Regions from separate parts of the Homo sapiens genome. Here regions 1 and 2 are each linked to region 3. The links come from fine-mapping of genetic effects on gene expression. A gene starts in region 3. Each other region holds a variant in brackets. All regions are shown on one strand. Distances are from middle to middle.

Evidence for each region. PIP is the estimated chance that this variant, and not a neighbour inherited with it, causes the effect.
Region 1: its variant is fine-mapped to the expression of MBTD1 in whole blood (TOPMed, PIP above 0.99).
Region 2: its variant is fine-mapped to the expression of MBTD1 in naive CD4 T cells (Schmiedel 2018, PIP 0.90).

The regions. Positions count from the first base shown.
Region 1 is chr17:51,350,138-51,358,304 of GRCh38, forward strand. No RefSeq gene overlaps it. Among named protein-coding and RNA genes, the nearest start is that of LINC02072, 18 kb to the left of the region's middle. The variant G/A (reference allele first, on the strand shown) is at 3,844.
Region 2 is chr17:50,644,515-50,652,695 of GRCh38, forward strand. The region is part of intron 1 of ABCC3 (ATP binding cassette subfamily C member 3); the gene reads left to right. Among named protein-coding and RNA genes, the nearest start is that of ABCC3, 14 kb to the left of the region's middle. The variant AAAG/A (reference allele first, on the strand shown) is at 5,071.
Region 3 is chr17:51,256,795-51,264,975 of GRCh38, forward strand. It overlaps MBTD1 (mbt domain containing 1), which reads right to left and starts at 3,255. Exons shown (of 17, transcript NM_017643.3): 1 at 3,041-3,255; 2 at 2,349-2,412. UTP18 (UTP18 small subunit processome component) reads left to right here and starts at 3,752. Exons shown (of 14, transcript NM_016001.3): 1 at 3,752-4,132; 2 at 6,480-6,592. The coding sequence starts at 3,791. RefSeq lists silencers at 2,993-3,312, 3,653-3,762, 4,113-4,302 and an enhancer at 4,773-4,822.

The DNA of each region.
Region 1 (8,167 bases), 93 kb after region 3:
TTTAACTTGTCTTCTTTCAACCAGCAAAGGAATGATTGGAAGCAAGGCTAGGTAAGGGGAGTGGCTGCCTAGAATGACTTGGCTTATCAGGAAGGCTCTTTGGTGTCTTTTGGCTCTATCCCTTATGCTGGCTGTCCTCTATGGAGCAGGCTGGGCACTTGGCTGTGATGCCAGTGACTGGGCACTCAGACCCCTCTTGTTCCATCAGTGCCCAGAAAGGGGCCAACAGCAACAACTTCTGGATGCATTCTTCTTTGCTCTCTTGGAGAGGCCAGTCTTGAGCACAGTTTTCTCTTGGCGATGGGCTGGATCCAAAGACTTGGTTGGCTCCTTCTCCCATGTCCATATTGCTTTTGTCCTGTGGTTCCCAATTAGGCATGATTTTGCTCGTACTTCCTACCTCCTGGGGACATTTGGCAATGTCTGGAGACAGTTTGGATGGTCACAACTGGGTGGGGAGGAGGGAGTTATTGGTATTTGGGGTGGAGGCCAGGGCTGCAGCTAAACTTCCCAAAATGCACAGGACTGCCCCCCACAACAAAGAATTACCCAAGCAAAATGTCAGCAGTGCTGAGGTTGAGAAATCCTACTTAGCCCTATTCTTTTAGGAGGTCCAGTAGGTCTGGAGGTTGAGGCAGAAGAAGAAGGAAACTGGGTGTTTGTCTTTTTACATCTCAGAGTACTCTGTAGGGATGGGCTCAGGCTGCTAAGGAGGTACTTGTCTTCAGGGCACCCCATCACTGCCCCCCACAACCCCTACTTATCTAGCCCTCCTTTATCTGTGTTAATTCTGTTTTAAACCAGTACTGTTTGACAGGCAGAAGCATCTTCCCCCGAGTTCCTATGCCCGGCCTGCTTTTGGCCGTGGCCTTGATGGCTCCGGTTGGGAATCCATGTGTTACTGTTTGGAGAGAGTCATATTTTTTACAGCAACATAACCCATTTTACCTTTATGGTAATTGTTTTGGAATAAGAAGTAATCATCCAGGACTGACCAACTTGCTTTTCTAAGTGCTCCTTTCTCACTCCTGGCAAATTGCTTTGAGAATTGAACAAAGCCCGGCTCAATCATGCAGGATATCCATTCCAAAGGATGCCGGTGAAGTAAATCTCTGTTAAGCCAGCTCAAGCCATGCCTCCTCCTCCCTTTTCCCAGAGATCAAATAGTGAGCGTGTGCTTCATTCCACATGCCCCTTGTCTTGGGGATGGGTGCTTTAAGCCTGGGGCTTGACCAGGGCACTTGCGATGCTCACGGGACTGCATAGGAAACTTGGTGCAATAGACTGTGGTATTAAAGAGCTTTTGGTCCTTGGGGCTGAGGTCGGAGTTAGCACTTTCCACGTGGCTGTTGAAGTTAATTTATGGAAGGCTTTCCTTGACGTATATCCTATGGAATGTTAAATAGGTATTGATTGAAGAAGTAGTCAAATGGGTTGGAGAAACTCATGTTCTTTGCTGCAGGACTTCTCAAGGTCTTTAAATGGTTAATGAGCTGTATGACTTGTCAAGAGGAGGATATAGCTATGTGGTTATTTCCCAAATTTATTTGGTCTTAGAACTCTGTTTTTAATGGAGCATCTCCCAAGGTGAGTGATCTGCTGAAAAGGATGTTATCATATTGGAAAGGGGAAGAATTCGATCTCCTCCACTCTCCCCTCCTCCCCTTCCCTGCCCCTTCCTTCCTTTCCCGTGATATGATACAAGATTTTTGTTCTGGGGGATGTCCTCTTTTCATTCATAAAATGAGGTTTTGTGAGGCAGCGTGGTCTGATGGAAAAATCATAAGCGCTCCCACCTCAAGGATGTTGAAAGTGCTCCTCCCTCTCCCTGTAGGAGCTTCCATCTCATCCCCTTCCCCAAGCTAACTCCTGCTTATTCATTTTCCTGGGCTCAGCTTAAACATCACATTCTTGAAAAAGCTTTTCCTTGGCCTTGGCTCAGGGAATATCTGGGACCGCAGCCCAGTTCAGCTGCTTACTAGCTGCCTGAACTCACTGGTTCAGTTGTCAACATAAGATTGCAAGAGAACTCATGCATATATTTTTGTGTATTCCTGGTGCTTGTATTTGAAGTCCAAGAAGAGGATTTTGATTATTTGTTACTTGTGGGATGATGGCAAGGTTAGGAGTGTTGAAAAAACCAGTTTGTAAGAAGAGCTCTTGCCTGGGTGTGGTGGCTCAAGCCTGTAATCCCAGCACTTTGGGAGGCCAAGGTGGGAGTATTGCTTGAGCCCAGGAGTTTGAGACCAGCCTGGGCAACATAGCTAGACCTCATCTCTACTAAAAATAAAAAAATTAGCCAGGCATATTGGTGCACACCTGTAGTCCCAGCTACTTGGGAGGCTGAGGTGGGAGGATTGCTTGAGCCCAGGGATTTGAGGCTACGGTGAGCCAAGATTGCACCACTGCACTCCAGCCTGGGTGATAGAGTGAGATGCTGCCTCAAAAAAAAAAAAAAAAAAAAAAAAAAAGAGTTCTTGGCCTGAGTGTAGATGGGGTCTTCACTGAGTCCGGTGCTGTATGTAGCTCTGCCTGTACGGCAGCCTCTGCTGCGCTCTGTGGTGGAGGAAAGGAGCACCAAAATGCGAGTTGGGAGCCCAGGGTTCCAGGCTAAATTTCGATTCTACTCCCAAGGCCTGAGGTATGCAGTTATACAAGTGATTGTGCTGTAACATGCTGATCTCTAGAAGTAATTTATTTCTATTTGTGTCATCTCCCCACAAATGCTATTGTGAGAACTGCTGCCATCTTGGTTGTTAATATGTGACTGGGAGTCAAAATGAACAGGTACAACACCAGTGACCATCCCTGCAGCACCAGAAGGCTTATGAATCATGTCTCAGAGCAGCTCTGTGGGCTCGTTGTCTCAGGAGATGCCAAACCACAGCCCTTCTATTCATTCTCTCATTAGTTCAACAGACACTGATTGAGCCTGACCCTGAGCCAGCCTCCATCAGTGCAGGGTGTGGGGGATATAGAATGAATAAGACAGTGTCCTTAACTCAAAGGGATCATCCTCAGTTTCTCCAAACCAGAGGTGCCAACCTTCCCACTGCTGTGTCTCTAGTCTGCAGTCAGGTACAATCCAACTTCTTGAATCCATTCACTTTGCATAGTGGCAGCCATTCCTCTCATTCATCAGTGTTGCCTCTTGCTTCAGGGGTCCAGCCTTTTAGTTTACAGGTCAAGAATTTTAGGGGGATCTTTCTCCTCCTCTCTGCCGACCCCCACCTTGGCCCATGGGGGTGAGAACTTCTGCTTTTACATCTCCCCGCTCAGGGAAGGACTGCCGTGTAAGCTCTGTTCCTCTCTCTGCCCTCCTGTTTCTCTTCATTAGAGGACTGGTTGAGTCATGTTTTGCTGCTGGGCAGGGTTTCTGGTGCCTCAGCAGTGGGAAAGAGGCTCCACTTTATCTTTCTGAGCTGTTTGCCCCAGGACTCAAAGACCTTTGTTCTCACTCCAAGCCTGGCCAGGTGGGGCATCCTCATGGTCTGGTGGGTTCCAAGGTCTAGACCTGGGGCAGGAGTCAGAGGCGTCCACTTTGGCCTGAGTCTAATCTGTGTTTGCCATTCCAGCTTTGTCAGAGGGCTCTACTTTGGGTGGTTTGGGGGTATAAAACTGGCCATTAATAAATCTGAAACTCTAATTCCCCTTGTTGTCTTTGTTAGCTGGTCAGCGAGAGGGGAAGAAGGGTTGGTGCCCGCGTTCTGGCTCCAGCCCTATCCCAGACCTCTAAACTTCAAAGCAGAGATGGTGAGGGACATGCTCAAGGTCCTGAGGACTCTTGGAAGATGTGGGACTTGAATTCATGTCTCCTGACTCTTGGCGCAGTGCTCTTCTCCC[G/A]TATCTGTCTCTCCTCAAATGGACAGAACTCACCAGTTGGCTCTCTGCTTGTTGAAAAGAGGGTATGGCTGTGTAGATGCCATGATAAAAATATGGAATCTGGACCCAGAGAAAATTGGGTTTCAACATTTTACATTTTCCCCTACATCTTAATTCCCTCATCTGGAAACAGGGTTAATAAGGGTATTTTCCTCAGTGTTATGACAAGCATGAAAGAATCCACATACCATGCACAACACGGTGTCTGAAACCGAGCAATTGCTCCATAAATGTTAACTATTTTCATGTCATATCAAATGAAACTTCCAGCTAGAAAAATTTTTCCCAAGAAGAGGAAAACAGTATCCAGCCAATGTAAAGTAGCAGGGCGTTTTCTTAATGAACAGTGTATCAGCTAAGTTTTTGAGGAGCAGTAATTCCTGTCTGGAATTTACCTGGGTATTGTAACTCTTCCCTACTGGCCATGTAGCCCAGGCTGAATGCTCTCAGTATATACATCTAGAACACCACAGGCGCCAATATCTATAAATAGGGAGGAAGCCATAAATGAGAGCTCATTAAGTTCTTACTGACTGCTGAAAAGTAAATTAGAAAAAATAAACAGAGCTGAACATTTGTGTAAACCTCAATCTTTTTGATGTTTTTCAATTAGCAGAGCCATTTTTCATGTGAAAAATTAATGGCTGTCATGTGCCACCTGGCTTATAGAATCAAGTGACAATTTGTTTTAATGACCATTTTCTACCTCTGGATTCAGGTGGACATGACCAGTTACAGGCCATTGGCGATGGGAGGAGGCAAAGGGGAGTGGGCCTTTAGGGAGCACTGCCCCCATGCCAGGCACAGTGCCAGGCTTGCAATGCACGTCCTTCCCTGAATTTCCTCCATGGCCCAATGAGGCTGTTGTTATCCTCATTTTATACATGTGGTTCTGAGAGGTGAAGAAATTGCCCAAGGTCACACATAGATGTTCAGGGCAGTCTGATTCTATAATTTGTGTCTATTCCACCAAATCACATTCTGCAGAGGGAGAAAGATTTGGCAGGAAGGAGGGAGGTGCCTGCTGATCTCTGGCAGGCAGCCTGCAACAAGGGTGGGACTGAACCAAGTGGTGGGGGTTGACATGGGCAGAGTCCAGCAACAGGGATCCTGGTGTGGGAGATGCTTAGGGTTCTGTCAGCGCAGAGGTCTCTCTTTGAATAGCAAAGCATTTGTCATCAGACTAGGGCTCAGAGTAGAAGTCCAGTCTCTGGGAGGGAGACTGAGAGTAAGGCAGGAGCCAGGCAGGATGTCTGTTTCAGAAGGGACCCGAGTTAGCAGTTGCTCAGTAAGACCACTGCATAGTTGATGAGGCCAAGAAACTAGAGGCAGACACCACGTCAAAGGCCACCTGTAATGCTGGAGCCACCTCATTAGAGTTGGCACAGTAGCAAGGAAGACTGAGGCAGAGCTGACACATTCTGTCTGGAGCTGCCTTTTGGAGGGAAGTGAGGGGAAGAAACTGCATGTGGAGTCAGAAGCCTCAGCTGTGGGCAGGGCTGGAGCAGCGGAGCAGGCCTGAGAGCCAGGCAGGGGCTGATGACCGTGATGACAGCTTTCACGGATTGTGGGATGGGCCCTTTTATGCATAATCTTTAATCCTGAAATAACTTCAGGGGATAGGCACTACTATCTCTTTTTGTATATGGGGAAGTGGAAGTTCAGAGAGACAGAGGGGTGAGGTCCTTTGCTTACAGGCACACAGTGGCCATCTGGCAAAGCAGAAATGAAAACCCAAAGATCTGTGCATGTTCCTCCCGCTCCCATACTGCCTCCCTGCCATCCCTAATTCAAAACAGATGATTACTTTCTCCATCCACTGCTTCTTCCCTGCCCTGCCTGTAACTGACCAGCGCCAGTCTGCAGAAACAGCAGCAGCCTTGGATTTAATTTTCTGGGCATTATAACCGACACTGCGGAGAACATCTCGGCTCTAGGGACAAATCTGTCTGATGACAGTGCACACGTGAGCTCCTTCCTAGACTGAGGGTGGAGCCGCTGGACCTGACAGTTGCAGCTTATTCTCCCTTTTGGTAATAATGCACGACTAGGCAAGAGAGGAAAAAACCTGCCGAGTAATTCTTTAATTTTAAAGAGTATTTCTCCAAGGCGCAGGAATCAATCAGCCCTTGGGATCCGAGCTTCTGTTCCAGGGGAGGGCGACTTAGGAACAGCTCTGCCTCCCTCAGGCAGGGTAGGGACTCAGTGACCTCAGAAAGATTTCTCGCAGCCGCAGGCTCCTCTTAGGAGTTTTGCTGATTGGTTTGGACTTTACTTTGAACGTGGCAGTAGATAGAAGTGTTAAGATTTTTCATAAGTCTGTCTTTCCATTTTCTTTCCTCTTCTAATTCCTGAGGTTCATAATTATTCTGTTCACCCTTTTGTAGTTGGATAACTGATTTTTGTTGTTGCTGTTGTTGTTGTTGCTATTTCTTTGGGCAGTTTGAATATTCTTCAATGTACATTCCTAGAAGCCTTCCAGAAGCCACGTTCTTCTTCTGGGCAATTCTAGGGAGATGGTGTTTGTTCCAGCCCTGGCCTTGCTGATTGACTGTTTAAAATTTACTCTCCCTGTCTCTGTTCCTCTCTCTTTACAGCATTATTTATCTACCAGTTCATCTACCCACCAATAGTCAATTTATCTATGTAACTATCCATTTGTTCCTCCATGCATGTCATGGTCCTGAATTAGCAAAGATTATGATGCTCGGCTAAGGGACAGCCCTTATAGACTACTCACACTTTCCTATAGCCATAGAAAGCAAAGAGAGTTAAATAAAAAATGAAAAATGCAATTAATCTCAAACCTTGTTGGAATTTATCATTTTTCTAAATGCCCTAAAAGGTTCTCTTCTTTTCTGTGTTGCAGACAGAACAGAAAGAAAATCAGACTTATGTCGATGGGGGTTTTAGACCTTATATCCACAGGTCAGATTTGTAAGGTTGAAGAAAGGAGGTGGGCACCCAAGGGTGAGGACAGCTGCTCACTGATCTCTCCTGATTGCCCACAGGGTAGGTCTTGCACTCTAGATCCCAGGTGAGGGTTTGGGAATCATTGCTTGTCCTTGATCACTTTGTTCTACAGCATCACCCCGAGACATCCATTCACAACTCTGAGATAAGTAACCTTGGAATGGGGAAGTTCTGGTACCTCTTCCAGATGCCTATCTGCTTTCCTTTTATTTTTTCAGAATTAATCCACTTTAATTTTTAAACTTTTTTTTTTTTTTTTTTTTAGGTAGAGTCTCACTCTGTCTCCCAGGTTGGAGTGCAGTGGCGTGATCTCGGCTCACTGCAACCTCTGCCTCCCAGGTTCAAGCCATTCTCCTGCCTCAGCCTCCCGAGTAGCTTAGACTACAGGTGCGCACCACCGTGCCCAGCTAATTTTTGTATTTTTAGTAGAGACAGGGTTTCACTATGTTGGCCAGGCTGGTCTTGAACTCCTGACCTTCAGTGATCCTCCCACCTTAGCCTCCCAAAGAGCTGGGATTACAGGCGTGAGCCACCATGCCTGGCTAATTTGTAAACTTTTAATTGATGAATAATAATCATATATATTTATGGGGTACAATGTGATGTTTCCATACATGTAGGCATTGTAGAATTGATCAAATCAGGCTAATGAACATATCCATCACCTCAATACTTATCTTTTTTTTTGTGATGAGGACTTCTAAAATCTACTCTATGAGTTCAGCTTTTGAAGATTCCATACATGACTGGGCGTGGTGGGTCATGCCTGTAATCCCAGCACTTTGGGAGGCCGAGGCGGGTGGATCACTTGAGGTCAGGAGTTCGAGACCAGCCTGACCAATATGGTGAAACCCCATCTCTACTAAAAATACAAAAATTAGCTGGGTGTGGTGGCAGGTGCCTGTAGTCTCAGCTACCTGGGAGGCTGAGACAGAAGAACTGCTTGAACCCGGGAGTTGGAGGTTGCAATGAGCCGAGATCACGCCACTGCACTCCAGCCTGGGTGACAGAGTGAGACTCCATCTCAAAGAAAAAAAAAAAAGATTCCATATATATGTGAGATCATGTGTAGTATTTGTCTTTCTGAGCCTGGCTTATATCACTGAGCATAGTGTCCTCTAGATTCATCCATGTTGTTGCAAGTGACAGAATTTTCTTCTTTTTCAAGGCTGAATATATTCTGTTGTATATATAGACACCACATTTAAAAAATCAATTTATTCATTGACAGGCACTTAGGTTGTTTCCAGATCTTGGCTATTGTGAATGATGTGGCAATGAACATGGGATGCAGACATCTCCTTGACATACT
Region 2 (8,181 bases), 610 kb before region 3:
CAGCCTGGCCAACATGGTGAAACCCCATCTCTACTAATAATACAAAATTTAGCTGGGTGTGGTGGTGTGCACCTGTGGTCCTAGCTACTTGGGAGGCTGAGACAGGAGAATCACTTGAACCCTGGAGGCACAGGTTGCAGAGAGCTGAGATCGTGCCACTGCACTCCAGCCGAGGTGACAGAGTGAGACTCCGTCTCAAAACCAAAACAAAACAAAAACCAAGGCCGGGTGCAGTGGCTCATGCCTGTAATCCCAGCACTTTGGGAGGCCGAGGTGGGCAGATCACAAGGTCAGGAGATCGAGACCATCCTCGCTAACACGGTAAAACCCCGTCTCTACTAAAAATACAAAAAATTAGACGGGCATGGTGGCGGGCGCCTGTAGTCTCAGCCAATCAGGAGGCTGAGGCAGGAGAATGGCGTGAACCCGGGAGGCGGAGCTTGCAGTGAGCCGAGATCACGCCACTGCACTCCAGCCTGGGCGACAGAGCGAGACTCCGTCTCAAAAACAAGCAAACAAAAAAACAGAAAACAAAAATTAGCCTGGCGTAGTGGCATGTGCCTGTAATTCCAGCTACCCAGGAGGCTGAGGTGGGAGAATCGCTTGAACCCTGGAGGCAGAGGTTGCAGTGAGCCAAGGTCGCACCACTGCACTCCAGCCTGGGTGACAGAGCGAGACTTGGCCTTAAAAAAAAAAAAAAAAGAAAGAAATTAACCAGCCGTGGTGGTGCACGCCCGTAATCCCAGCTACTCAGAAGGCTGAGGCACGAGAATCACTTGAACACGGGAGGCAGAGGTTGCAGTAAGCCAAGATTGTGCCACTGCCCTCCAGCCTGGGCGACAGAGCAAGATTCCATCAAAAAAAAAAAAAAAAAAAAAAAAAAAAGATGGGAGAACTCAGAACTCAAGCATATAGATTATTCAACAGTTCACATAGCCAGATAGTTCAAGGCCAGCTGTGGGCTTTGAATGCCATAGTAAAATGTTTGAACTTTGCCTTCTAGGCAGTAGGGAGCTACTGAAAGTTTAAAGGGATGGTATACTATTATTCTTTCATTCATTTATTCAATAAACGTGTATGTGTGTGTGTGTATTTTTTTTTTAAGAGTCCAGGTCTTGCTCTGTTGCTCAGGCTAGAGTGGAGTGGCATAATCATGGCTCACTGCAGCAACAAACTCCCGGGCTCAAGAGATCCTCCCGCCTTAGCCTCCATGTAACTGGGACTACAGGTGCCTGTCACCAGACCAGGCTAATGTTTTACATTTTTGTAGAGACAGCGTCTTGCTATGTTGCCCAGGCTGGTCTCAAACTCCTGGCCTCAAGTGATGCTCCTGCCTTGGCCTCTCAAAGCACTGGGCAATGTCCCTGGTCTTCAATAAATATTTGATTTATTTAAGCAAATCTTTTTTCTGAGCACCTACTATGTGCTAGGCACCATTCTAAGTACTTAGGATACATAGATAAATAAAATAAAGGTTCTTCCCTTCAAAGAGCTTACATGTCAGCAAGTAAAGGAAAAGATGAGAGAAAATATAATAAATCAGTAAATTATATATCATGTCAAAAGGTGATAGGTGTTATAGAGAAAAGAAAAAGCGGAGAAGGGTGGGAGAATTGGGAATACAGGGGTGGGACACAGGTGGCAGTATTAAACAGGATGGTCAGGGTAGGCTTCATTGAGAAAGAAAGACTTCAGGATGTCTGGGGGAGGAGTGTTCCAGGAAGAGAGAAGAGCAAGTGCAAAGGCCCTGAGACAGGAGCAGCAAGTGCATTTAGAAACAGCAAGGAGGCCAGTGGCTGGAGTGAAGCAGGAAAGGCGGGGAGAGGGTCATGGGTTGGGGGAAGGGACATTGTGCAGGTCTATGCAGGCTATTGTAGGGTGTATGGAGTGAAGATGTCAAGTCAGCAGTTAGATATGGAGCTGGAGATTTGGGGAGCAATGAGCTGGAGAGATAGACTTGAAAGTCATTGGCATATAGATGGTACATCATATCATCATATGAGACTGCATGGGATTGCCAAGAGGTTGAGTGCAGATAGGAAGGAGGCAGAGAAGAGGAAAGGACTGAGCTCCAGGACCCTCTTGCACCAGGCAGGGGAATCAGCAAAGAGACTGTGATGGCATGGCCAGAAAGGAAGGGGAAAACCATGCAGGATCTGGGACCCCAGGGAATCTGAAGGGAAGAGACCAGAAGTCTATGGCAATTGCTCATGAAGAGATGAGGGTCTGGCCAAGGGGCCAGGTGGGAGGAACCAGGTAAGAGATATTATCATCCCAATGTTACCCTTAAAGAAACCAAGGCCCAGAGAGGGGAGAGGTTAAGAACCTGGGTCAAGATCACACAGCTTAAGTGTGACTTCTTCTTTTTATTTTTTATTTTTTTGAGACGGAGTCTCCCTCTGTCACCAGGCTGGAGTGCAGTGGCACAATCTCAGCTCACTGCAACCTCCGCCTCCCGGGTTCAAACAGTTCACCTGCCTCAGCCTCCCGAGTAGCTGGGATTACAGGTGCCTGCCACCACGCCCAGCTAATTTTTGTATTTTTAGTAGAGACGGGATTTCACCATGTTGGTCAGGCTGGTCTCGAACTCCTGACCTCGTGATCTTCCCACCTCAGCCTCCCAAAGAGCTGGGATTACAGGTGTAAGCCATTGTGCCCGGCCAAGTGTGAGTTCTTTTAAGCTGTGTGACCTTGGCCAAGGTGCTTAACCTTTCCCTGCCAAGTCTCAAACACCTCTTTGTCCAGCTACTATGCTTCCATCAAGAATCAATAGGACCTATGTCCCTACAGGTGTCAGGGTAGCTGGCAGAATGGTGATGCCCTTGGCAGAGGCAGGCAAGGCCAAAGGAAGGGCTGGTTCTGGCAGGGAGTGAAGGATCTTACTTTGAGAGGTATTGAATATGAGGTGGCTGCAGACAGATGGTGACGCCATCTGAGAGGCAGCAGGAAGTAGGCGCTGAGGCTCAGGAGGTGATTTGAGCTGTTGATCTGGATTTGGGACTCCTCAGGACAATCTGTGAACAATGATGAGAGAGAGCACCAAGGACCAAGGTCTGAACTTGGGAGCTAGGGCCCATGTCCACAGGGTGAACTGGAAGGAAGATAAGGAGACAGCAAGGAATGCTTGCCAAGAAACCAGGAGACCAGGAAAGAGTAGTTTCCAAGAGATGGGGGAAGCCCACACTGTTGCAGGGAGGTCCTGCATAAAGTCTGAAACGGGTCTATTTAATTCGCCCTTGGAGGCTGGGCATGGTGTCTCACACCTGTAATCCCAGCACTTTGGGAGGCCAAGGCGGGTGGATGACCTGAGGTCAAGAGTTTGAGAACCAGCCTGGTCAACATGGCAAAACCCCGTCTGTACTAAAAATACAAAAATTGGCCGGGCGTGGTGGTGGAAGCCTGTAATCCCAGCTACTCGGGAGGCTGAGGCAGGAGAATCACCTGAATCCCAGAGGCGGAGGTTGCTGTGAGCTGAGATCACACCACTGCACACCAGCCTGGGAGACAGAGCAAGACTCTGCCCAAAAGAAAAAAAAAAATTGTAGTTGGAAGGACTTCTGGTTCTATAGGGTGGATTGAACACAAGACTTTATCTCCAGTCCTTCCTGATTTTCCATCAAAGTGACAGTAAGGAATAAAGAATGTAAACCTACAAGGACAAAGAGAAGAGGAGACAACAGCAGACAAGATATTAACACCTTTTTGGAAAGTGAGAAACAGGTTGAGGAGTGATCACTGACACAGCAGAGAACAACTGAAACCAAAGGCCATTTGGAGTCTGTAAAAGCTCGGGGATTGGAGGGCTGAAGGAGGCAAGGGGAAGAGCAGGGCTGAAAGCAGCGGCTGCTAGGAGAATGCATAAGGAGAGATGAAACACCCAAGATACTTATCCATCTCCTCTCAAAGCCAGGCAAATTCCAGCCACCTCACAGAAGACCAGCAGTTTATTCTGTGGAATTAAGTAAAAGTCTGCATACTGAAGGATAGAACCCTCAGCCCTCACTCCTAAATTGGTCCCAGAGAAAAGACCTCCAGATTCTTCCAGTTGTTGGGGGAGTCTTCCCTAAAGGACCAGGTTCCTACTTGATCACTCTGCAGTGAAGCCCAACAGCCAATAAGCTTGGTCCTCGGTACTCTGTCTTCAGTAGCTGTTTCTTGGTCCTTGGTCCTTGGTACTCTCACTCATCATTGTTCACAGATTGCCCTGAGGAGTCCCAGATCCAGTCCCAAATCCACCTGCCCCCAACACACAGAGCAGCCAACTCTTTAGTGTCTTACTCCAAAATATTGAGACAGCCAAGCCGCAAGAATCACCACAGGTCGGGTGCAGTGACTCACGCCTGTAATCCCAGCACTTTGGGAGGCCGAGGCAGGCGGATCACTTGAAGTCAGGAGTTCGAGACCAGCCTGGCCAACATGGCAAAACCCCTCTACTAAAAATACAAAAATTAGCTGGGCATTGTGACACGTGCCTGTAATCCCAGCTACTCGGGAGGCTGAGGCAGGAGAATTTCTTGAACCTCAGAGGCAGAGGTTGCAGTGAGCTGAGATCGTACTACCACACTCCAGCCTGGGCGACAGAGGGAGACTCCATCTCAAAAAAAAAAAAAAAAAGTCACCACACATTTGAGGAAAAATTCTGTTAAAATAAAAACTTTAGACAAATTAAATTTAGCAGAGTTTATCTGAGCAAAGAACAATTCATGAATCAGCCAGCATCCTGAACCAGTAGAGGTTCACAGAGTTTTACCACCCAGCAGTATGGGCAGGCAGTATTAATGGACAGAGAAAGGAATTGATGTATAGAAACAGCTTGATTGGCGACAGATCAGTATTTGCCTTATTTGGGCATGGTGCAATGAGGTGTTTGCCTTATGTGGACATGTTCTGATGATCTGGCAGCTTGTGATTGGCTGAAAATTCTGCTATATTTGGCTGAGACTTGGCTGCTTATTGTAAGAATATACTCTCAAGTTACGTTGCAGTTTGTTTACATATTGAATTATGCTACAGTCCACTATGTATGGAGTCAGCTTTATACCTGGGTGACAGAGTGAGACTTTGTCAAAA[AAAG/A]AAGGAGAGGAGAGGAGAGAGAGGAGAGAGATGAGGGGTGGGGAGGGGAAGGGAGGAAAGGAGAAAGGAAGGAAGGAAAGAAGGAAGGGAGGGAGGGAAGGGAAGGAGGGAGGGAAGAAGGGAAAGAAAGAAGGAAGGAAGGAAGGAAGAAAGAGAGAGAGAGAAAGGAAGGAAGGAAGGAAATAGGCAACACATAAAATAAATTTTTTTAATAGGATCACAGGTCACTGTGAACAATAGCCGTTCATTAAATGACTTCGGAGGCATATACAAAAAGTTACATAGTTGTAGAAAAAGCTTAGCTGTTTTAATAGCGAGTTCTCAGTTTTCTTAAGTGATCAAAAACCTAACAAAGACAGCATGAAGCACAGGAAATTATCTGGGTAGAACACAGAATCTTTGTTTTCTAGGCCAACTACCTAAAGAGAAAGAAAAACATTTTACAATTTCCTATTATGATCAGACCAATAATCTAAGAACACCATGTTGTTTTAATGGAGAGAACCAAATTCTAGTTTTGCATCAGTGTAATTTTGATATTAATGCTAGCTCTTATCGCCCAGGCTGGAGTGCAATGGTGCAATCTCTGCTTACTGCAACCTCCGCCTCCCGGGTTCAAGTGATTCTCCTGCCTCAGCCTCTCAAGTAGCTGGGATTACAGGCGCCTGCCACCACACCCGGCTTATTTTTTGTATTTTTAGTAGAGATGGGGTTTCACCATGTTGGCCAGGCTGGGCTCGAACTCCTGACCTCAAGTGATCCACCCGCCTCTGCCTCCCAAAGTCCTGGGATTACAGGCGTGAGCCACTGCACCCGGTCGCTAACTTTTATTCTTAAAAAACTTGTAAATAATTACCTCCTAATCTTAACCAGCTTGATCACCCATAAAATTTCTTTCACAAGATTCATCTTCCACAAACCTCCTACAACTCTTATATCCATTCACTTTTTGTCCTATACTTTCCTCTTCTCATTTTCGAAAAATCAGTCATTTCACTTTAGGACAAAATTTATTCTCTTTTTCCGTTATCAAAACAAAACATCCTCACGTCTTATAGCTTTTCCTTAGCTTCCTTTGTATATTTCTTTTTCATATATTCCTTTTTCTTACCTTCCTTGTATATTTTCATATAGATTTTCCCCCTTATTGTTTCTAGTAATTGTAGCTACATATATTAATTAGAATTCTTAACCCCGGCCAGGTACAGTGGCTCATGCCTGTAATCCCAGCACTTTGGAGTCCGAGGTAGGCAGATCACTTGAGGGCAGAAGTTCAAGACCGGCCTGGCTGACATGCTGAAACCCTGTCTCTATTAAAAATACAAAAATTGGCTGGGCGTGGTGGCGGGCACCTGTAATCCCAGCTACTGGGGAGGCTCAGGCAGGAGAATTACCTGAACCCAGGAGGTGGAGGTTGCAGTGAGTCAAGATTGAGCCACTGCACTCCAGCCTGGGTGACAGCGCGAGACTCCATCTCAGAAAAAAAAAAAAAAAAAAAGAATTCTTAACCCTTAGTGACCTTAATTTCCATGGACATTAGAAAGTAAGCATTTGTGAATTGTGTGTCACACCAGCTGTAGATTGGTAAATCTATGAACCATAATGTCTAGAAGCATGAGCTTTCTCATAGTACAATTTGTCAGTGTGGCACAGAACATGTTTCTCAATGGTCCAAAATGTCTTTAAGTCTCTCTGTAAAAATAAACTGTAAAGGAGGCAAAATTTCATTTGTATCCCTTTAGGTTTTTTGTTTGTTTGTTTTGTGAGGCCTGAAAACTAAATTGTTGTTTGTACAGATTTCCCTCCTCCTCAACTTTCTATTCTTGATGCTAAGAGTGTTAAAACCTTCTGGTGGCTGAGCGTGGTGGCTCACGCCTGTAATCCTAGCACTTTGGGAGGCTGAGGCAGGTGGAACACTTGACCTCAGGATTTCGAGACCAGCCTGGGCAACATGGTGAAACCCCATCTCTACAAAAAATACAAAAATTAGCTGGATGTGGTAGCTTGTGTCTGTAGTCCCAGATACTTTGGCGGGGCTGAGGCGGGAGGATTGCTTGAGCCCAGGAGGCAGAGGTTGCAGTGAGCCGAGATCTTGCCACTTGCACTCCAGAGTAGGCGATAGAGACCCTATTTCAAAAAAGTAATAATAAAACCTTCTGGTATAGGAAGGACATCTTTTACATGGGAATTTTATCTTACATTCATTTAACTCACTTATTTTCAACACTTATGCTTGGATTGCCTATAAAGATGAGATAATAAACAACTAGTCATCATTTTGTTTTTCTTGCTGACAAATTTTATAATATAAAGACAACATAAGCTTGTTTTACCAGTAAACCTAGATAGGAAATCATGCATCTTTATGATATTTAATCCCCAAAACTATGAAAACATGTCTGTTTCAGTCAAACCAACAATATTCTTATTTGCCAAAGATTACCCAAGTCAGATGAGCTGCAAAAGTATTTGAGGTAGTTCTTAATTTTCTGAGAGAATACTTCATTTATACAAGCACTTATTTTTCTTAAAGCCAACAAAATAGAGCTCTTTCATAATTTAATTTTGGAGCATTAAAAGGAGATAAGAAACTATGATACCTGTATCATACATACAGACTTATATAAACATAAACAGCAACAGATCTTACAGCTTTCATTTAAATATCTTAGCCATGTTCCAGGTACAGTAATATAAAACTCCTGAATTTATTAAAGACTATCTGGATCCAAATTGTTCTTCTGGCCAATGGAACAAGATTTCTTGCCCAGATGACTAAAGCTTTTGAATAAGATTCGTGAAGGAGCTTTTAAGATTTTTTTGTTTGATTTCTGTAAGGAACCTATTATAAAGAGGCAATTTTTTATTCATTTAATCTTTTAGATGCCTCTGTGTATCAATTAAAGAATGCATCCCATTGCTTTTGTGGCATTTTTGAACCTTTCTTTTCTAATGCACCTTGCAAGTGAACAGTTTTATCTAGGTCAAAACTTTCCCACTGTGGCCACTGTAACTCTTAAGTTGTCCTCAGCAAAGTTAACCCATTTTTCCAAAAATACACATGTTCCTCATAATTGTTGTTCATGAAGTTAGCCACCGTCCCAGAAA
Region 3 (8,181 bases):
TTGGATTATGCTGATACTAGACTAACCCTTCAACTGCCATGAGAAAATGGAGGCACAGGATCTTGTCCAACAAGGGCCATGGAGCTACTCAATGGCAGAATTGTGACATCAACCTCACTGCCAGCACCCCTCTTATTGTATCACTTCATCCTATCTCATATTCAGGGTTTGTTCAAATGGGAATTATTTCCTTTTCACCTTTTATTGTGGGTTCCAGCAAAGCAAGAAGAGAAATCCTAAATTTGCAGGTAAAAAAATCCTTAAGCCAAGGTTTATTAAAAAATAATGATTAAATCTATGTGCAATTTTTGCCTGAAATCAAAAGTCATCTTGCACAGTTAAGAATACTGTGGTGTTAGGAGAAATATCTTAGCTTGTTTTAACTATTGTAAGTCCTTTCTCTTTTATTGTCCTGATGTTTTTATTCTTTCTTGAATTTTGAAACCCTCAGACTAATGATACATAAGTGTGAAAGGTTATATCTTATTTAGCAAACATTTTAAAGATGAAAAGCTGAGAAACAAAGAGCAACCCAAAGAATGTCACTTGTCTAATTTTAGAATGTGGTTACTCAGACTACTGAGCACTCTTGGCTTTTAGTAATTCAGTGGTTTAGTATTTATCCTAATATGTTGTTTTCACTTTTAAACTATAGCTTATATTTTCCTTTGATCACTATGTTACATTTGAAAACAATTTAAAATGTTGTTTTAATTTTCAACATTATTGAGGGACCAAAAGCAGCACTAGAACATCTAGAAAGGTTTAGATAATAAGGTCAACATATAACCAGCTTTAAAGAATATGGCAGCGTCTTAAAAATAAAACCAGTTGTTCCTGTCTAGTATGTTTAGAATGCAGATGTCTCCAAAGTCAGTCAACTTAAGTCATGACAGTTCATGTTTAAAGTAAGCAGGAAAAAAACTTGGAACTCCTTATTAATTAAAATGTTAAAAACACTATTATTACACCTCTACTGATTCTTTTTCACAAGCTGAATTCTAATGAGTAGATTTAGAGGAAATATTTTATGTCAAACATTACATAAAGTTAGAAACTGGATGGTTAAAAAGCATGACGCAACAACGTAAGGCACTATGAATAAATACTTATTCAAGACAGATGTTGCCATAATTTGCAAGGTACTCACAAGCAATCAGTATGGGGTTTTAGATAGATAGAAGCTACTTGTTATTCAGAGAAGGAGGTGGTGCAAAAAAAAAAAAAAAGTACAGCTATTTTCTTTCTAAACACTCTGGTGTTGAGGTAAACAAATGAAAAATAAAATAACAGTCTAAGTCCACAAGAGCAAAGCAACAGTCTCTAAGTTATAAGAGGAGGAGAGAAAAATTGAGTCTAACCTTTTAAATAGGAGACTGGGGCTTAAGGTGAAATTTATTTGCTGGCTTTTAAATCACATGCATTATTTCTACATTATACCTGTTATGTCTTGACACCCACTTCACCACATTAGAGAGTAATAGGTATATCCAAGATTCTTAGGCCAATAAAACTACTTTTAGAGGCAGCATAGCTCACCAAATGAAGGAGAATGTTAGAAAAACACCCAGTGACAATAGTTTCAACTATCTCAACCACCCAGTGATAAGTACTGGTGCATGCTAATATAAGGAGAATTAAAAATATTGTAAACTCTAAACAAGTATTAAAATGGTTCGTAAATTTCAAATCTCATAAAAGATAGTTACTTAAAAAAAAAAAAGAAGGAGTAAAAGCATTTGGAAGAGAGGCCCTTGGAGGAAAGACTAGCTTCCGAGGAACACAGGTCAAATACGGGTGTGGGCGGTAATCATCTAATCATCCCTCTACCAGGTGATGCTTCTAACCACTTCAGTTTTAGACATCCTTAGAAGTGATTTAGGTAATAAACAAATGTGTTTTGTGATACAAGAACCACGGAGATGACGCTGAAATTTCTAACTTCAAAAAGATGCACTCCTAAGAGAAAACAGGCACGAAATTCCCATATTGTAATTCTTTAGCTTCCTGTAGAAAAACATCTTCAGGCATGTAAGCCAGCACACTTGACACTGACCCAGCAAAGTTTTCGGCTAGCCCTCACTATCTCTCAACCCCCCTTCCTCCACTTCCCTGCTGTTCTTTCTTGGCACACAAAATATAGGCCAATGAGCAGTGGGTGGGTGAGGAGGATGTGAGAGAAAATTTGAGAAGTAAAAAAAGGAGCAACTTAACCAGGACATGAATGAGACTGAAGGGTCTAATAAGGGTAGGCAGACAACAATTAGAACTACTGAAATATGGGCTTTCCTGGGCAGTAGTGAGCTCTCAGTGCTTTTAGGGGTGTAAGCAGGGTTCAGACTACCTACCACTTGTCAGAGAGGCTGCAGAGGGGACGGCTGCTTTGGATGACCTCTAATGTCTCTTCCGACTCTGAAATGTTAGGATTCTTATTTCACAAAGGAGAACGCAATGGTCACAGAAGTCCACCGACTTGAAACCCTTTTAAATATGCAGCCTTGGAGGCTGCTTCCCAAACACCACTCCCACCTCTCCCGCACGTGCCCACCCCGCCCCCTTTCAATATTTCCACCTCCACGTGCAAACCGCCTCGCGGCACTGCCCCCAAGGCAGATAGACACCTTCCCCTGCAAAGCAACGAAACTGTGCTCCCCCTCCCCGCCAAGAAGAGAGGACTACTCCACTCTCCCACCCTGGGTGGCTAAAAAAGGAAAAGTCTCGGATCCAGCCTTTCCCCCCTAGCCAGAGCAGGGGGCGGGGGCAGGACGCAGAGAAAAACTTTCTTCTCGAATTTTTCTTCCAAAGGGTGGAGGAGATGGAGAGAACCCCAACGAGTCCAAGGCTGACGGGGTGGGGGGAGGGGAACCCCTGAATCGTTTAACGGCTGGAAGGGGGAGGGGGGCTCCGGAGGTTGAGAGGGCGTGGGATGGAGAAGCAGGCCAGGGAGCGGGGTCAGGGAGCTGCGGGGTTCCTGGGGTCGGAGAGCTGCAGGCGTCCCCCCCACCTGGCACACAAAGCGGCTGCCGCGCTCGGCTCTCACCAGATCCTTTGTGTTTTCCATCAGGGCCTCATGGGTAGGGGTTGTCCGTGCTCCCCGAGCCCGCGGCGCCCCCTCCCCGGGCTGGGGGCAGGTGCCTCTCCCCGGGACTGCGGCGACTACAGGGGGCCCCCGGCTGGGCCCAGACCGGTGGCGGGTGCAGCAGCCCCCGGATTTCCCCCCTTTAACTCGGGTGGCCCCAGGATATCAACAACATTAGCATAGCCCTCCCTCCCCAGCGCGCCTGCGCCGTGACCCGCGCCCCGATTGGCCCACTTCCCTACATACCCTCCTCTCTCGCTTCCACCGTGGGACCCTCTGCAGGCTCCGTACTCCAAGGACCGTACCAAGACGAAGGGTGGAAAGCGTATTGGGGCTTGTGTCAAGTCAAGTGGTTACAGCCAAGAGGAAAAGCAGAAGTTCCATTCAGCCGTCCCAGTGTATAGTCGGGGTTTCTTGCGCTCCTTTCAATATGTTGCAGCTGCGAAATTGTGTTGGAAAAATTTTCCACTCCAGTCACGCCGCTTCCCCCTACACCCGGAAGATTGGCCCTCCCGGAGGAACTCCCACACGGGGCGGGGCTGGGTAGGGGAGCGGGAGTTACGTAGAGGGAGGGAGTGCTGGTCACGTGGCAAGAGGCTGCGCAGGCTCCTTCCGGCCCCCGGGGCTTCGGCGGCGGCGGCCCGCGAGGGGCCTGGGCGCATGCGCAGCGAGGTTCCACGTGAGCGCCTGCGTTTCTCCTCAAACCTAACGATGCCGCCGGAGCGGAGGAGACGAATGAAACTGGACCGGAGAACCGGAGCGAAGCCGAAGCGGAAGCCCGGAATGAGGCCGGACTGGAAAGCCGGAGCGGGGCCAGGCGGGCCTCCCCAAAAGCCTGCCCCTTCATCCCAGCGGAAACCGCCGGCCCGGCCGAGCGCGGCGGCCGCTGCGATTGCAGTCGCGGCGGCGGAGGAAGAGAGACGGCTCCGGCAGCGGAACCGCCTGAGGCTGGAGGAGGACAAACCGGCCGTGGAGCGGTGCTTGGAGGAGCTGGTCTTCGGCGACGTCGAGAACGACGAGGACGCGTTGCTGCGGCGTCTGCGAGGCCCGAGGGTGAGGGAGGCCGCGGCGCGCGGGCTGGGCGCACTCGGGCGGGGCGCGCGGTGGGCGGTGAAGCTCCGGGGGGCGGAGCCTGGGCGACCTGCGGCGGCGGGGAGCGCTCAGGTGGGAGGGAGCCCGAGAACGCGGGCGCGGAGGGTCGCAGCTGCGGGTCCCTCGCCTCCCTGCTCCAGACTGAAAGTGCCTGGAGGGCGGGGACCGCGTCTTTCTCCGCCCCTGGAGGCGCCGCTGCTCGGGTATCTGCTTTGCGAACTGTGGTCGTGAGCATCTTTCGCTGCTGCTCGACTCCGCTAGCCTCTTCCCAAACTGAGGGTGGTCTTTTGATCACCTGCCTCAGTTCCTTGTGATTCAGGAATTCGATTTCGTTGATGGAATCAATTCGTGGGCACGGGCCTGGGCATCTCCGTTGTAACTATGTCCCCATGTGACTATGAGACCCACCATGTTTTGAGAATGATCGTGTATTCCGTTCATTTAGCAAATATTGGTGAACCTGTTAGTTGCCAGATACCCTTTCTGGCAATGGCAAACCCTGCGTGATTGATCATACTTTTTGCACACATTTTGCTATCCCTTTAAATTCTATACCAGGCTTTTCTTGAGAGAGTCCCGGACATTGTTCTAGGCACTGGAGGAGACACAGCAATGGACAAAACTGACAAAAATCCCTGCCTTTTGGCGCTTGTGTGCTAGTGGCAGAGACAAGATAGAGGAGATAAACGAGTAAACTTCAGGTTTGTTGGTGACAAGTGCTGAAGAGAAAAAAGGACATTCGGGAAAGGGAGATGGGCGTGTGTAGAGGCCTGTGAAATTTTAGATAAAGGGGGCAGAGGAAAGCTCACCGAGAATTACCCAGGCCATGTTTATTACACAAATGCTGACCTAGTTAATGTCAGCTGCTTACCAGAGCCGCCTTCGGGTGCTTGTAGGAGAAGTGGCAGCAATCTTTTTGGGAAGTACAGAACTATTACTGGAAACATGCTGAACTGTGCGACGGTTTTGTCGTCTGGAAAAGGAACAGTGTACGGAGGTGGGAGCTGTTGGGTTTGAAGGCTATTAGACTAGTAGTAGAGCAAGTAGAAACCACTTGGACATTTCTATCATTGGTTTTGGGAAGCTCAAACTCACTTCAAGGGATATTCTGTGGTCTAGGTTTAGATTTTTTTTTTTTTTTAGACTCGCCCTGTCGCCCAGGCTGGAGTGCAGTGGCGCCATCTCGGCTCACTGCAACCTCCACTTCCTGGGTTCAAGCGATTCTCCTGCCTCAGCCTCTGGAGTAGCTGGCATTACAGGCGTGCGCCACCACGCCTGGCTAATTTTTTTTTGTATCTTTAGTAGAAACGGGGTTTCACCATCTTCGCCAGGCTGGTCTCAAACTCCTGACCTCGTGATCCGCCCGCCTCGGCCTCCCAAAGTGCTGAGACTACAAGTGTGAGCCACCGCACCCGGCCTAGGTTTAGATTTGATAGTATAAACTTTATGGTATAAATTTATAACTTTAGAATTTAGATTTAATGGTATATTTATTTTTTACTTATTTAGAGATACGGTCTAACTTTGTCACCCAGACTGGAGTGTAGCGGCACCTATTAGTCTTCCATCTCCCTTTTGCTAATAGTAACTGGTTGCTCTTCTTGTTGGTCACAGATAAATTACACCTGCACAATTCTCCGAACACTTTAAACTCAGAAGTCAGCTTCATCCTCCTAGGCTCAAGTGATCCTCCTGCCTCTGCCTCCCAAGTAGTTAGCTGGGGCCACAGGTGCACACCACACACCCAGCTAAATTTAAAAATTTTCTGTAGAGACGAGATCTCCCTATGTTGCCCAGGCTGGACTCGAACTCCTGGGCCCAAGCAGTCCTCCCACCTTGACCTCCCAAAGTGTTGGGATTACAGGCATGAGGCATTGCGCTCTCTGCTGGTATAAAGTTTCTTAAGGAGGTAGGGGGTCAAAAACAGATTGGGAAAATGGAGATATCTTTGACTCTAGTTTGCCTCCGGTCCTGTAATTTCTGTAGTTCTGACATTTCTCCTCCTTTTTTCATCTGCAGACTCATCTTTTGTTCTTGTCTTACTTGGTGTTTTCCTTCCTGCGTGTTGAGTGTTGACTTTTTCTCCTTGACTGTTCCATCTTGCCTCACCTGTCCAGTCGGTGCCATTCTCTGATTTCTCCATTTTCTGCCTCTGCTTCCAGCATTTGCAATGGTAGCATTCCATCCCATTATTTCATCAGAGAGTGGTAGAAAAAACATTCTATGAGCCATTTGGCTGTAAGGCCTATGTGTCTGCAGTCATGGGATAGGAAAATCTCAGTGCTTGAGGGTGTTTTGTCTGCTGTAGGTTCAAGAACATGAAGACTCGGGTGACTCAGAAGTGGAGAATGAAGCAAAAGGTAATTTTCCACCTCAAAAGAAGCCAGTTTGGGTGGATGAAGAAGATGAAGATGAGGAAATGTAAGTTGCCTAACTTTTCTTCTGAATCCCTCTGTACACTTAAAAAAGTTATTTTGCAGATTTTAAAATCATTCTTTTTACCAATTTGTGATTATGTGAAGATTTGAAAAATATTTGAAAGTATAGAAAAGATCTTTCATGGTTCCTGATCCCACCACCGAGGGAGAACTGCTGTTAGCATGTTGTCACACTTCTGTCTCAGTCTCCTCTTTGCTGTATACAGTAGCTAAGAGAATACAGTGTTTGAAGTCAGATCTCGATTTGCCTCCTCTTTTGGCCAGTTTCTAATTGACCATGGGCAGTTTGGAACCTACATTTTTTCCTTTGTGAAATGGGCACAATGATAGTAACTACATCAGAATTTTGTTGGGATTAAACAAAATAGTACTTGTAGAACTTTTAGCACAGTGCCTGAAACTGAGTAAAGGCTAAAAAGAAGGTAGCTCACACCATAGGAACTGTCATGGATGAGAATGTACTGTATGCTTGATTTAACATTTTGACTTTTTCTACATAAAGTTACTTTGTAAACATTTCTCCCTACTTAAAAAAAATAGACATTTTAAAATGGCTATGTTGGAGTCAATTATGTGAATTAACCATAATTTACGTGGCTATTGTTGGGTAGATTTTCTTTTTCCCTTTTTTTTTTTTTAATTATTTTTTTTGAAACAGAGTCTTGCTGTTTCACCTAGGCTGGAGTGCAGTGGTGCGATCTTGGTTCACTGCAACCTCTGCCTCCTGGGTTCAAGCGATTCTCCTGCCTCAGCCTCCCGAGTAGCTGTGACTACAGGCGTGTGCCACCACACCTGGCTAATTTTTGTATTTTTAGTAGAGACAGAGTTAGACGGAGTTTTGCTACGTTGGCCAGGCTGGTCTTGAACTCCTGACCTCAAGTATACACCCGTCTCTGCCTCCCAAAGTGCTGAGATTACAGGCGTGAACTGCTGTGCCCAGCCTTATTTTTCCCTTTAATGCAGATTATTTCAGCATTAATGTTTATCACCTCTTTATGTATAAACCTTTCTTTATTTTCTAATTTATTGCCTTAAGAAAGATTCTTTGAGGTAGAATTACTTAATCAAAGAGCACAGTTATTTTTAAGGTTCTTGATAAGTACTGCCAGACTGCATGCTATGGGGCTCTACCAGTTTGCCTTCCCATTGAAAGGTGTCAGTTTCAGTCCATTCTTAGACACAATGGTTTATTTGTTTTTTTTTTCCAGACTCTGTCAGTTTGGTAGTGGGTAATATCTCTACCTAGTTTGTTTTGAGGAAGTGTTTTTGTGTTTAGTCATTGTCTTCTTTTTTTTTTTTTTGAGACTCTCATCCTTTCATCCAGGCTGGAGTTCAGTGGCGCGATCTTGGCTCACTGCAACCTCCGCCTCCCAGGTTCAAGCGATTCTCCTGCTTCAGCCTCCCAAGTAGCTGGGACTACAGGCACATGTCACCATGCCCAGCTAATTTTTGTATTTTTAGTAGAGACGGGGTTTTACCATGTTGGCCAGGCTGGTCTCGAACTGTTGACCTCAAGTGACCTGTTTGCCTCGGCCTCCTAAAGTGCTGGGGTTACAGACATGAGCAACCACA